4 linked regions of the Homo sapiens genome follow. The protein of the gene in region 3 purifies or fractionates together with the protein of the main gene of each other region. This does not show direct contact. Each region holds a gene or a part of one and is shown on either strand. Other genes may lie near its edges.

Region 1 (3,500 bases), on a different chromosome or scaffold from region 3:
TTGAAAATTGTTAATCGTGTTGTAAAATGCTGACCTAAGAATCAAACAGACTTACAGGATGCAATTTGAGGTTAAAAATATTTTCTCAATGAAAATTTGTCACTGTTTATATAGTTATGATTGAAATGTGTATTCATAAATATAAAATCAAAATGTCCTCTGAGTCAAAATGGCAGTAAAAACATCTTAAATCCAAAGGACTATTTTGGGACATTCCTCTTCTAAATCAATATGGACAGATACTACTTCAAATATCTGAGTATTACTTAGGTAACTTTGGTGGGGAACTATAAATTGAATTACAACATACATGTAGAAAGTGTACAAATGATAAATTACACAGCTTGATCAATTTTCATAAATCAAACACATCCATGTAACTAATACTCAGATCAAGACAGTATCTGCATCCAGAATATTCCCTGGTACCCCTTTCTGGGCACCTGCCCTGAAGGGTAACAACTATTTGACTTATAACACTATAGATTTGCTTTGCCTATTTTAAAACTTTAAAGAAATGGGTTGTATAGTATACATTCTTTTTTATGTCTGGCTACCTTCACTCAACATTACTTTTATAAGCTACATCTATAGAGTCACAAGTAATTGTATTTTGTTGTTTGCATTACTTTTAAGTTATTCCATCATAAAAAGATAAAATCTATCCATTCTACTGTTGATGAGCATTTGGGCATGTAAGCAATGTTTTAAACTAAAACACTGTCACAAATAAGCAAGTACGTATATGTTCACTGCAGGAAAAAAAATACACACACGCACACATACACACACACACGGAAAAAGCCTTTATGATCCCATGGGGTAGGGATAATGATATATTTTGGCATATCTCTACACACATTTCATTGAATGTATCATTTACAAGCCAATTACTTAAATGAATAGCAATGCTTCTCTTTGCTGCTAATATAGGTTAATAACACAATTAAGATTTTAAGATATCTTCTTCCAAGGTCTGGATTTTCAGTAATTTCCACATCAATTTTCTAGAAGGGATACTAGCTTCCAGAGAAAGTACCTAAAATCAAAACAAGTCAGCACACTCAGAACATTCACTGCATGACAGGAAAGCAAAAGAGCATTTTTGATGATCAATAGGCCCAGCTCAAATGGTCCCTCATCTCCACTAATCCTTTCTTGAAAGGCTCTAGCAGAAAAACAACTTTCTCTGGGAACCCCCGACCATGAATCTATTGTACTACATGTAATAGATTGTAATGATATATTTCCATACTCTCTTCCTGTTATTAGGAAGTTTAAAAAAGCACAGAAAGGTATAAAAGCAACGTATCAAACACCCACAAATGTATCTACACCCCAAAATTAACAAATGTGTTCATTTTGCTATTTATATAAAAATTAATATTTTATAGGAGTAAAGTTCCCTTTGTTCCTTCCCCAGTCTCTTTCCTTTTCTCTTCTCAGAAGCAACCAATAAATTTGATAAACTGAGTTTGATCACTCTAATCTCAATTATGGATTTTTTTTTTTTTTGAGACGGAGTTTCTCTTTTGTTGCCCAGGCTGGAGTGCAATGGCACAATCTTGGCTCACCGAAACCTCCCCCTCCTGGGTTCAAGTGATTCTCCTGCTTCAGCCTCACGAGTAGCTGAGATTACAGATGTGTACCAACATGCCAGGCTAATTTTGTATTTTTAATAGAGATGGGGTTTCTCCATATTGGTCAGGCTGTTCTCGAACTCCCAACCTCAAGTGATCCACCCACCTCAGCCTCCCAAAGTGCTGGGATTACAGGCATGTGCCACCACACCTGGCCTATGGCTTTTTTTTTCCTCGAGACAGGGTCTCACTCTGTCACCCAGGCTGGAATGTAGTGGCGCCATCACAGCTCACTATAGCCTCAAACTCCTGAGCTCGAGTGATCCTCTCGCCTCAGCCTCCCAAGTAACTGGGACTACAGGCGTGCACCACCATGCCCAGCTAATTTTTTTTTTCTTTTTTAAGAGATGGGGTCTCCCTATGTTGCCCAGGCTGGTCTCAAATTCCTGGCCTCAAGCAACCATTATGGCCTTGGCTTCCCCAGGTGCTGGGATTAAAGGCATGAGCCACTATGCCCAGCCTCCATTATGGCTTTCTAGTTTTGTTTCAAAGATTTGCGGTTTTGTCCTATTTGACTTTCTTCTCATTAAATGATAGCAACCTATAAACAGGACAGAGTGTATGTGCTATTAAAAATCATCTCACTGCCTATCAAAGAAGCAGGAAAATGGAAGTGAAACTAAAGTAGAAACAGGCTTCAGAGGAGAGAGAATAAATCTCTCAAAAATACCACTTATTATCTTGAATAAACTCTGGTTTGGCATCTTTTCCTCCTCTTCAGGATTACAAAAAACTTGCAGTGCTTTTTAACTTCTAACTGATGCCAAAGACTCAGGAGAAAAGGTTGTTTAGTAAGAATACACATTTTCAAGGAATTTAAAGAGTTTGGCAAAAACAACAAAGATTATTTCATGCAGTAAGAAATGCTGAGCAACTATAATGTAACACTTTTCTTCACTCAGATTTTTTGACAGGTGGTAACTGCTTTATAAGTGAAAATTAAGTAAGTTAAACTAAGCTACGTTAAGTTTAAGGAGGTATTTTATGCCTGCACAAGATGTAAAAAATGAATGTAAAATTAGTGTCTTCTACAAGTACAAAAATCGTTCACAGGGTAACTCTTTTCTCATTTGACTCCTCTGATAGTCCTGTGAGGTTAACAGGACAGGTGCTTTGATTTTATATCCTATTGTTACGGACTGAAAGAAAGAGCAGAACAATCAGAGCAGTAATAACTTGTCTGAGATCAAACAAGGTAATGTCAAAGCCCAAAGAGAATCCAAGTGTTATGAGACTCCCAGTCCCATGTTCTTTCACCTAAACCAACCTCTCCTATGTGGAAGCAAAATACTTGGGGGCAGGCAGTTGGAGGAGGAATAGCAATGTGCTGTTATGAGCACTGCCTAACTATGGTGCCTAACACAAAGTCAAATGGACCCAATCTAGCTCTGCAGAACCAGCCCATGGTCTTAGGGCAGGGGAGTCCTCCCACTGGAGGCTGTCCAAGCCTCTGACAATGCACTGCCTGAAGGACATCTCTGAACTATGGCTAGTTACTCAGGTCCTCATGTTCCAGGACCACTATTAGGGTCTATGCCAGACTCACAGTAAAGACACTCAACCCATACAACTCCCAAATACCCTTATGACAATATAACATCATCGGTTGCTTCGATAACACATATTTTCTCTCACAATTGCCTGTGCAATTCTCAAGTCTGCCTAAAAGATCACCCAAAAGTTACTTTACACCTTAGAGGCTAACTAATGCAAAATTCATTTGCGACTGTTAAAAAAGAACTTGGGTTCCAATGAAACTAAAAACTCTCTCTAAGGCTGAATTCTAGGGTTGTCTATCGTACCTGTTGCTGTGCAAGCTGGACTTGATACAACTGCTGCATGTACTGCTGATAGTGTTGC
Region 2 (2,530 bases), on a different chromosome or scaffold from region 3:
TTTCCCCTGTGGGAGGCCAGCATCTTCGCTTGCTCTCTTCTCCACCTGAAGACCAACTGTCATCTTACCAGCGAGCTCAGCTGCCAGGGTTTGTGGCTGGCGCCAGTCGTATTGTGGACATGGGCTTATGCTGAGCACAGACCAGGTGCTCCTCTGGGAGGAGTGAGACTCACGGGAACACCATCCTCCGCTTTCTCGTGAGGAGGGTGCCCCCTCCTTGAACTTACCTAAGGGACGATGGCCAGAGAATAGTGAAATGTATGCAGGTGCCACTGCTTAGTTCCTGAGAACTGTTTAGCTGTCATTTTTTTGCCCTTAAATATGCCTTTTTTTAAAGCACATTTCACTGATTTCATGTGAATCTAGGGTAAAAATGGAGTAGTAAGACCAGGCGGTGAGAGAGTGGGCTTCCGTCCACTTCAGGGCGGAAGCTGGTTAGTCCACGTGTCGGTCCTTCTGGGACCCTGCCACACAGGTGTCCCCACACCAAGGCTGGCAGAAGGAGGTTTAAATGACCACAGGCTTCGGATATCAGAAAGGCAGCTGGAAATGACACTGAGGAACAGATGGGCTATAACAGCTGCCCTTGCCACTTGGCTCTACATCCTCCTGGCTCCGAGCAGGCCCACCGTTGCTTTTCCTCCAGTAGATGGTGGGCCACGGGATAGAGCCAGAACAGAAGACTCGTCCCCCTCCACTCTTGTCTCTGGCAAATCCACCAGCTGGGAGGACCACCTTTCCTCCCTCCTGCCTCTGTGCGTGTGCGTGCACTCCATGTCGACAGCCACAGGTTTCTGCTGCAGCAGCCTCTTCCCCTGAATAGGACTGGGATTAAGCCCCAGCAGCTGGTGCACCCCACTCAGAGCACGGTTAAGGCAGCTGCCCAAACCTCTCCTCGGCTTTCTCAGGGCCTTTATTCGTTCAGGCTTTCTGGAAGTCAGCTGGCGGAGGTGAAGATGGCTTGGGCGCCCCTCCTGTGAGCTCTGTGTGAGTGGTGCTCTTTGTGATGTCAGGTGAGGAGCATTACAACTGCATCTCCGCCCTGCACAAGTCCATGCGGGGCTCAGACCAGAACGCCTCCCTCTACTGGCTGGCTCGCATGCTCGAGGGAGGAGAGGACCCACTCTACGTGGCACGGAGGCTTGTCAGGTTTGCCAGCGAGGACATAGGTGAGTGTGATGGGAGGGTCCCGGAGTCCTATGTCCATGAGGGTGGGGAAATGGCTAACAGTTACATCGTGGCTTTTTTTTTTTTTTTTTTTGCAGGGCGGGGTGGGCGGGGGTAGCAGGAAGAATGTCTCAGGGCTATGTGAGACTGGCAGGAGAAGATAAGACTTTATGCCTGAGCTCAGTCGTTTATTTCCTGGTGTATGTGCTTTTGAATGTTTATGTTCATAAAGTCACCATTTTCTGTTTCCTCTTCGGGAATGTTTTTACTAACATGAGTGGCTATTCAGAGTATTGCAATAGATGAGCTGCTTTTAAATTTGCTTTAAGTCAGGTGTTCAAGGTTTTCTTTGGACAGCTCCCAAGGTAGAAATGGAAGACTCTAGACACTATATGAAGAAAAAGATCAGGAAAGCTCTCCTCTTCTTTGGTCTTAGGGGATGTTTTGTTTTTAGTGTTTCCATCCTGGTGAATGTCTCCATAGCCTTCACTTCTTATGTTTGTTATACAGAGACTCATGTTTTTCTAGATGCAGAGTTTTTATCCACAAGGAAACAGTTCTTAACACCACACAGTAACCACTCTCAATATTTCTTGCATAAGTTCATGGGATCAGAGACTAGAGCTAAGTCAGGCTGTTTTGCTACATGGGATTGTTTTGGTCACCAAGTGTACAAGCAGTGGTGGTCTGTGGTCGCCTGCACATAGGCCAGGAGGACAGTGTGTGTCATGACTGAAACTCTCCTTTGTCTCTGTGTGTGGCAGGTCTGGCAGACCCGTCTGCGTTAACACAAGCGGTTGCTGCCTACCAAGGCTGTCATTTTATAGGCATGCCTGAATGTGAGGTAAAGTAATCAGCTCATTTCTTGCAAATCACTTCTTTTCTCTCTCGTGCTCTGTCCCTTTGTAGATTTGAATAAATGTCCCTCCTTCACCATTGGTGTATTGGACCCACTGAGTATGCTGCTTGGCTTTGGAATTCCAATTGTAGACTCTTAGACTCCTAGAGAGGGAAACCTTCTGTGTCAACGAGGTCATGTTTCAAACTGTTCTCGGGATTCCGGGGTTCAGAGCACATGCTCCATATGTTCCAGGGAGCAGAAAGGTTAAAGGAGCTGAACAGCAAAGCCTCTGCAAGTTCGCCCCCAGAGCAGCTTCATATTCATCTCTTTTATATATTGGGGGCTTAAGAAAAATTTAATGTAGTAAAAAGTCCTTCAGTTAAAAAAAAAAATGAAAACCACTCACCTGGTTTGCCTCTCGTTTCACCTCATGAGAATTTCTTCTGTCTGTCGTAGGTGGTTATCCAGACTGTAGGCGCAAAAGGGGGATAATAAAAGCATGTGGGGATCTTCTCAGAATTA
Region 3 (5,222 bases):
TCTCCTCTCACTTCACCAGACAAAACCTTAGGCTGATCCCAATAAAAATGAGTTGAGAATTTCAGAAATATCAACTCACTCAATTAAATGAAAGTCTTATATTTTAATTCCAGGAAATTCTAAAACTCAACTTCCCCACCACATACAAAATCAAATACCGACTCTCAACCTATGAACTTACTAGGTTTAAATGGCTGTTCTTTGGATCATCTGTGGGTTCTTTTAATGCCTGAATGTTCTAATGAAGCCTCCAGATGGATTTCCACTAAGTAGCAGTAAAATTCCTGTCATTACAACTGTTCAGAGAATCTGAAATATCTTCTTTAGAACTATCTGGTAATATATATTGAAAATTGTTTTGATGCTTAGCCAAACTCATAAGAAAGTAAAGGAACTCCCCAGGAGCCAGAATTGTAAAGGCAATATAAATACACAAGCTCAGGAATCAACGGGTTGGGGTGGTTGTGCCCACACTGGGTAAGAGACAAGGCGTTAGGCTGGCACAAGATGAAGATTTGGAACTGGAGACTTCGTCATAGAGCCAGGACCCTCGAAGAGCCATGCTTGCAGTGAAAGAGTATACTAGATGATATCTGCACACTGGCACAGGAAGACAATGGGAATCTGCCCATCTTAGCCAGATTAGGGGGAAGAAATCTCCCTTGAAAATTTTTAGCCATAGACCTCCCCACAGTCAGCTTTAATCTTTGAGCTTATATAAATATATTTTAAATGAGCAAAGTTGGTCCTTAGGCAGTAATACAGAAGCAAATAGGGACAAATCTCAACCCTGCAGCATAGGATTTCTGTAGCTAACACCCTACAAAAGATGAGCTCACAATCCAAAATAATGAAACATAAGGAAGCAATCCACATTGAATGACAGTAACAGACATAAAAAATGGTGGAATTGGACTCCCCCAAAACTGCAGATAAAAGAGTTATGTAAACTAAAAATAAATATATGCAATGTTACTAATGACATAAGAAAAAGGAACTGACCTCATGAAAAAAAGAACAAGACACTATTGAAAAGACAGAGCAGGCTTCAAAAACAACCAAACAGGAGTTATAGAAATGAAAAATGTGATCTTTAGCCTGGAAAAAGACTCAATGGATGGGTTAGAAAAGCAAATTAGATACCGCTGAAGAGAAGATTACTGAAGTGAAATATAGATATGAAGAAATTATCCAGAATTCAGCACAAAAAGAGAGATGGAAAATATTAGAGAGAAATTAAATATAAAATGGAGGACCAAATGAGATGGCCTAAAGTTATCTGAAAGTAATTCCAGAGGAAGATGATAGACTGGATTTGAAGCAATATTTTAAGACAAAATAGCTGAGAATTTTCCAGATACATGAAAGACAAACATTCTTAGATTCAGGAATCAAATGACTTAGAATTCTGTACCTAGATAAACTTGCACACAAGAGTAAGGGTGAAGTGAAAACATTTTTAACCAAAGATGCTCCCAGCAAAAATTGCTAAACAATGTATTTAGAGAAGGAAGATAGATCCAGAAGGAAAGTCTGAGATGCAAGGAGAAATGCAAGCAAAAAAAAAGTGATATTCCTAAGGATGAATCTAAAGGAGTATTGACCATATAAAATAGGGGCCAGCTAACTGTGGCCTATTTTTGTGTGATCCTCCAGCTGGGAATGGTTTATATTTTTAAATATGTCTTTAAAAAATCAACAAAAGAATGTGCAACAGAAACCATATGGCTGCAAAGCCTGAAATATTTACTATCTAGACCTTTACAGAAAAAGCTTTCTGACTCTCAGTTTAAAACAACAGCAATAATGACTAATTTGGGCAATATAAAAAAGAACTGAAATACTGAAAATGTAAGGTACAAGTGGGACAATGAGAGTTCCAGTACACTGCAGTTCTTATGTTGTCAAGCCAATAGCAATAGAATGTGTAACCTTCAAGGCAATACAGGGAAATGAAGACTTAATCTAAGAGAACCTAGGGTCAGGGGAAGCATAGAAAAAAACAGGGTAAATACAGAAATACAGAGCAACATGGATGAAAATGATCCCAGCATGCCAGCAACACAGTGACAATAAATGGACTTAAACTCATCAGTTAGGAGCAGAGATTGTCAGGTTGCTTTTAAAAATACAGGCACTGGTTATTTACAAGAAACACACCTGCTACACTGGAATTCCGAAAAGACAAAAGTAAAAGAATGGGAAACTACACGACAGGTAAATAATAACCAGAGGAAGCCGGATTTGCTGCGTTGGAAGAAAGAGACCTAAAGCTGAAGCACTTGGGAGACGGGGGCTTGTCGCAGTGGAGAAGGAACTATACCAGGATGTGCAGCAGGTCCGTGAGCTTGAGTTGGGCTTTTCAAACCTAAGAACTAGACATACCTTTTTCTCTTCACTGATCAACATGCTTTTTGGTATCTTTTCACCAAAATAGACAAGTGTTTCCTCCCGAGTCTGGAGCTGAGAACCTCCATGATCTGAGCAGGTGTCCTGGGGGGCCAGAGGGCACCATGCTTCCTGCCTCACAACACACACTGATGGCCAGCTCCAGGGCCTGCAGGACTGCCTGGCGCACGACCGAAGGCCTCAGGTCTCCAGTGCGTGTCGCCTGGGCTCCTGGAGTTGGTAGGGCCCCTCCTTGTTGGTCATTCTTGCATGCGTGAGCCAAACACGTGGGCATGTTTTGAAATTGGATCTCTGTTCTTCAGAACTGTCACCATTTACAGTTCATCCCGTACCCACAGATAACACTTGCTACTATATTCTTCATCTTTTTCTCTCTTAATGATCAGCTTTTCATAATCATAGGCCTCTTCGGGCTAGCACTTTTCATACATCACACTTGGCAGGATGTAGATGTGGGTAAGGTACCAGCTCAAACACAATAAGCCTGTGCCGGTAGTTGGAGCTAGAGGTTCAGATTCACACAGATGGATTTATTTAACAAAAATCTTGCTATTGTCACCAGCACTATTGTTCGTACCTGCCGTGTTCCCACGACCTTTACCACCTAATTGTCGCAAACACCTTTCATGCACCAAGCAGAGCAGCTGGATGCATCTTATCTGTAGGAGGGGCCCCTGTTCTCTCCAGCTTGAACTCACCTCATACAAGGGACTCCTAAGCTCCTACTTGAACCACAAGCACCTAAGAAAATAGAAGAGTTTCTGCCTTCTAGAGCTCTGGCCTGAGGCTTGGTGGTGGGGCCATGTGTTTGGTTTTTAAGTAGCCCCTCGAGACCCTCCAGCACCCCTTCCCTGCCTCCCCTGGACCAGTGATCCACCCTGGGTCTGAGGGCATCTGCTGCCCTCTAAGAACGAGGGGCCACGTCCAGGGAGAGCCCTCCTGTGGGCTGATGTCCCACTTGGGGAGAGACTGGATCCACACTGGAAAATGCACTAGTTAAATTGGAGGTAGCACAATCATTTGTCTGGATTTGTAGGCTGGCGTTGAGCCCTCAAACATGTGAAGGGCACGGAGTTAAAGCTCTGGGTCCGGCGAGGAGCCAAGGCTGAGGCAGTGATGTTGGTGGAAAGCCCTGGGCCCCGGCCAGGCCTGGCCTCCAAGGGGCTCCCAGTGGGGTGCGGCTGTCCTGTGACAGCCTCTTCAGACCCCAGGGCTGGCGCCAGAGGAAGTGCTCACCTGGCTTTAGAGTCACCTGAGAAGCTCGCAGGTCCACCCACTGGGCCACCCGCATTATGGTCCTCTTGTCTTTATTTCCTTTTTCCCACTGTGGACATTTCATGATTGGATTAATTTTAGTCTAAACGTGACTTGAACCCAGAAGTAGTTCAGGCTGCATCTCTCCCAAAAGCCTTGTTTTCAGGGCAGCTCCTGGTTCTTCGTGGGCCTTCATCAGACAGCCCTGCCCTCATCAGACAGCCCTGCCCACAGGAGCCCAGGCCTCCGGCTGAGCATGCAAGCCCCGCTGCTCTTGCAGGGAGGCCACCCCAGGGAAGGTGCTGTGGGGAGAGAGCCACCCGCCCAGGCCTTGCGGGCCAGGTCCTCATGGTGCCCACGGCGCGGGCCGCCCTGTGCCTGCTCCAGTAACAGGTGGGCTCACCTTTGTTTTGGTGCAGTTCCTGATCCGCCTCATACACAAGGAGCTGAGCTGCCCAGGGTCAGCTACGGGGGACCAAGTTCCGTAAGTCCCACTCGGGCCCTGTCTCCGTGCGTGAAAGCCGGCTCCAAAGTGCCTTCTGTCCTATCTGCCTTCTGCACCTGGCTTTCCTGAAAGAAAGAAAACGCGTGGCTTATCTTTTCACGGCACGCCACCTTCACTCTCACTTTTTCTTTTCTAATAAATACCTCTGGATGGGTTAGTGGTAATCTCTCCTCAAACCCTGAGTGGAAAATGTGAGGGAATTGCCGTCTTTGGCATTCTGTTGGAGCTGCAGCCCCCCGAGCTCTCCTTGCCTTCCTGCTCGCCCCCTTCTCCCTCCCTCCTCTTTTCCCTCCCCCCTTGGTCCTCCCTCGCTCCCTTCTCACTTCTTCCTGGCCCCCAGAAGGCTGCGGGAAAGGTGCAAGGGTTTATCCAGCATCCAGCACCCCTGCAGGAGAGGAATCCCTGCTGGGCCGGGAGGGCAGCTGGCTCCCCATAGGATTTGCACATGGTGTGTGAAGTTCAGCATCTCTTGCTGAGCCACTGCTGGCTGTTAGAGCAGCTCTTCTTTCAACCTTTCTTTCAGATTTAAGGAACAGTGACACCCCACCCCAGTCCCGTGGAGGGGGTCTGGGCCCACCCTTCACAACTGCCTTTCAAGGACAGTTCAGACAAAGGGCCCTGCATGGAAAGAGTGACCTCCCTTTGCCTTTTGCACACGCACCTGGAAAAGACACAGAAGCCAACCTGAGAACCCCTGGTGCTATTTTAAAGGAGACATATTGCTGAACAGCAGTGAGAAAAGTCTGCAGGAACTGCTGCCTGAGCCAAGCCAGAGAACCGAAGACCCGGCCGGCCCTGGCCTCACAGGCGTGTGCCCATGCAGCCACCCAAATGCACGCGTGACAACAAGGCCGGGAGGGTGGGGGGGGTGCACAGGTAGCCCCGACCCTCTCAGGCATTCCAGCCACAGAACATCAAAGTGAGCGAGTACTGCGCTGGCTGTGGCTTCAGAGAACCTGTATGTGCCACATGGAAAAACAGGACACCAGAGCCCACCAGACAGTGCCGGCCAGCAGAGAAGCAGAGAGCCAGCGCCACACAACATCAAGAAGGC
Region 4 (3,500 bases), on a different chromosome or scaffold from region 3:
TCTCCACTCGTTACACTGTTTATTAGTGTAGAAGGAGGCACCTTTTCCCCTATCACTATGCCATGGCTCACATACAGTCTTCTTTGATATCATAACCGTATTTTTGCGGCTTAGTCTCCTAACTGATCATCTTTATATATGCATAATGCTGTCCAGTTTATTATCTAGCACTTCTGAGAAGTGTATTACAAATGCATTACTGAGTTGGGAAAAAATAAAATTAGGATAGTGGTAAAATGTTATATCACAAGAAGGAAATGGATTTAATGAACTAAATGAGAGTATATCTGGTAGAGACCCATTTCAACATTAGAATTATCTGCTGTAGAACATTTTCTAGTTCAATTTTCTTAGACTTTCAGATGTTAGGCTGATTGTTTTATTTTTCTTTTGCCATGTGCATACCCTTACTTCTTAACTGAGTGATCTGGTTCTTAACAATAATACCTTATATTTGTATAAATCATTAAAATATATTATTTCATTCAACCCTATACAATAGGTTGTGGTATTTCTATTTTACACATATAGAAATCAATAGTCAGAGGTTAAACTGCTCAGCTCAGGTCACACACACCAACAAATGATGGAACTAAACCTTTTTGAGTGGCATCTTCAGGATGCCAATCCAGTGCATTTTCCACCACACAAGGATCCTCTTATATGAATGTCATCATGTGGCCAGAGCCTGGGTGTATAATTAATAGATTTGTATCTAAAACATTTGACTTGTAGGAGGGAGACAATATGGAGTTCTGTTAAAGATACATTTCCTACTACTATATTACCAAATTTGGAAATTCACATTGATGAAACCTTTTTAAGTATAAAAATTTTTTTAATAAAATGCCAAATCCTTTTCTTTCCTCTTTCCCTTTCTCTTTTGTTTCTTGTAATTTGACTATTTTTCTCTTACAGCATGTACAGAAGCATATTCCCAATCTGATGAGCAATATGCTTGCCATCTTGGTTGCCAGAATCAGCTGCCATTCGCTGAACTGAGACAAGAACAAGTACGAAACAATACTGCCTTTCAAACTAGCCTGCTTAGATGGCACTGACTTGTATTGCTTGAAGTGTTTATCACCCACTTGATCCTATTTTAGTGTTATATTTTATATTTGGCTTTCAGCAAACAAAATTAGTTTGCAAATAGAAAAGTCAGTTGAATAATTGCTTTTGTATAATGCTTTACTATTAAAAGTTATGCTTACGTTCATAATCTTATTTTGTTTCTTCTCACATTCCAGTGAAGATATTATCCTCATTTTACATATGAAAAAACCAAGGCTCAGAGGAATTATTTCAGAGTTCTTTTTCTCCATCCCAACTCCCATTGGACAGTTGCCATTGCCTTAACTCAGATAATCATTTCTTGTCTGTATTTTTAAATTAACTTCCAAACTGTTTTTCTAATTTAACCCTGTCTAACTCCATCCTTTGCTGTGTCCAGATTTTTTTTTCTAAATTTCATCATGCCATTCTCCTGTCTTATATAATCAGTAGCTCCCAATTACATATAGATTTAAGTCCAAACTGTTTATCACAACCTACTCCTGATTACTGCTCCAATGCCATCTCTTAAAATTCCTGACAAGGGAATTTCATACTCTATTCTCCAGACATACTGGGAAAAGTTTCTTAATTTTATTGATTTTTGCACAGGAAATAGTCACATGTACAAACTCAAAAGATAAAAAGAGTATACATATAGTGAAAAGTCTCCCACTCCTGTCTCTTAGCCACTCAGTTTTCCCTCTTGAATGTAGCCAAGGTTACTAATGCATAGATATGTTATGCGTATACAAGGATGTACACATATATTTTGTAAATATAAGTATACATAAAGAGCTTCTACTAATTTTTTTCTACTACATAATATTCTGTGTAGATATATTATAATTTTTTAGGCAGTCCCTTATTTGTGAACATGTAGGTTGTTCCTAATCTTTTTCTTTTGTAAATGATACCTATTTTGCACATTTGTGAGTATACCTGTAGAATAAAATCATAGGGCTAGAATTGCTGAGTTAAGAGGTATATGCATTTTTTATTTTTATGTTTTTTAGAGATGAGGATCTCACTATATTACCCAGGCTGGCCTCAAGCTTCTGGGCCCAAGTGCTACCATAGATACCACTGCACTCCAGCCTGGGTGACAGAGCGAGACACTGTCTCAAAAAAAAAAAAAAAAAACAGATGAAAAAAGAAACAAAGCAGAACCAAAGCTATCCCTAGAGTTTAGTAAATGGCATCCCACACTTGTGCTTTAGAGAGGCCCAGTGCTGCTAAAGAAGTCAAGAAATCAGAATTGGAGGAAAGATGATATCATTTGTCAAAATCCTTTTTTTTTTTTTTTTTTTGTGATGGAGTCTCGCTCTGTCGCCAGGCTGGAGTGCAGTGGCATGATCTTGGCTCACGGCAACCTCTGCCTCCCTGGCTTAAGGGATTCTCCTGCCTCAGCCTCCTGAGTAGCTGGGACTACAGGCGTGCGCCACCACGCCTAGCTAATTTTTGTGTATTTTTAGTAGAGATCGGGTTTCACCATGTTGCCCAGGATGGTCTCCATCTCTTGACCTCGTGATCCACCCGCCTCAGCCTCCCAAAGTGCTGGGATTACCGGTGTGAGCCACCACGCTGGGCCATTAAAATCTTATCAGTAGCTTACTACATATATTCAGCCCATAAATACTCCCTTCACCCTGTCGTGTTGTCAGATGTCTACCATTTTATGTATATATTCTTCTGATTGATTTTTTCCGTTCTCTTTTCCATTGATGTTCATTATAGCATGATTTATTCTTGATGAAAGCATTAAAGATGAGAATGATACGATTTGTCCCTTCCCGTTCTACCCTTAAGGCCTTGCTGGTCCTTATTTAATTACATCTTAAGAGTCTTCTTATTTTTGGACTTAATTCAAAAGCCTGTTATTCTGATAGAGGTGACAGGTAGCTAGTAAGTGTGTTTGGTGGCAAATTAAAGTATCCTTGGTTTTTAAGCTTTACCATAATGTGCATAGATAACTAAGAGTTTACTCTAATGCTATTGATTATGGTAGATGTATTTAATTGTTTGTATCCTGTCCCAATAAGGATTGGAGTAATCTTGATTATATTGTTCTTTTGAATATACATATATAAAAATAATATATTTCTCATTATTTATTTTATTTTTAGCTTATGTCCCTGATGCCAAAAATGCACCTACTCTTTCCTCTAACTCTGGTGAGGTCATTCTGGAGTGACATGATGGACTCCGCACAGAGCTTCATAACCTCTTCATGGACTTTTTATCTTCAAGCCGATGACGGAAAAATAGTTATATTCCAGGTGACAACTGAGCTTCATGGATTCATCTAAATACTAACAACAGTAAATGTATATGTCTTAAATGAGTGTTTCAGCATAGAACCATACTCAGTCACTTACAAATATTTATCATCAAATAATAATTACTTATTTGGCCCTACATTAAAATATTAGACATCAGTTTTATTA

Evidence for each region.
Region 1: the proteins of SLC37A1 (region 3) and ACBD3 purify together in Homo sapiens (affinity purification with mass spectrometry; one large-scale study listed by BioGRID and IntAct). This does not show direct contact.
Region 2: the proteins of SLC37A1 (region 3) and WRNIP1 purify together in Homo sapiens (affinity purification with mass spectrometry; one large-scale study listed by BioGRID and IntAct). This does not show direct contact.
Region 4: the proteins of SLC37A1 (region 3) and TMEM59 purify together in Homo sapiens (affinity purification with mass spectrometry; one large-scale study listed by BioGRID and IntAct). This does not show direct contact.

Annotation. Positions count from the first base shown.
Region 1 is NC_000001.11:226,155,742-226,159,241, forward strand, and holds part of ACBD3 (Golgi resident protein GCP60), read right to left. Parts: coding exon 3,443-3,500; intron 1-3,442. UniProt on the Homo sapiens protein: Involved in the maintenance of Golgi structure by interacting with giantin, affecting protein transport between the endoplasmic reticulum and Golgi. Involved in hormone-induced steroid biosynthesis in testicular Leydig cells.
Region 2 is NC_000006.12:2,782,393-2,784,922, forward strand, and holds part of WRNIP1 (ATPase WRNIP1), read left to right. Parts: intron 1-1,013; coding exon 1,014-1,169; intron 1,170-1,931; coding exon 1,932-2,011; intron 2,012-2,530. UniProt on the Homo sapiens protein: Functions as a modulator of initiation or reinitiation events during DNA polymerase delta-mediated DNA synthesis. In the presence of ATP, stimulation of DNA polymerase delta-mediated DNA synthesis is decreased.
Region 3 is NC_000021.9:42,575,654-42,580,875, forward strand, and holds part of SLC37A1 (glucose-6-phosphate exchanger SLC37A1), read left to right. Parts: intron 1-113; coding exon of another isoform or gene 114-233; exon of another isoform or gene 234-303; intron 304-3,817; coding exon of another isoform or gene 3,818-4,082; coding exon 4,083-4,147; intron 4,148-4,691; coding exon 4,692-4,707; 3' UTR 4,708-5,222. UniProt on the Homo sapiens protein: Inorganic phosphate and glucose-6-phosphate antiporter. May transport cytoplasmic glucose-6-phosphate into the lumen of the endoplasmic reticulum and translocate inorganic phosphate into the opposite direction. Independent of a lumenal glucose-6-phosphatase.
Region 4 is NC_000001.11:54,043,205-54,046,704, reverse strand, and holds part of TMEM59 (transmembrane protein 59 isoform 2 precursor), read left to right. Parts: intron 1-918; coding exon 919-1,013; coding exon of another isoform or gene 1,014-1,061; exon of another isoform or gene 1,062-1,222; intron 1,223-3,179; coding exon 3,180-3,332; intron 3,333-3,500.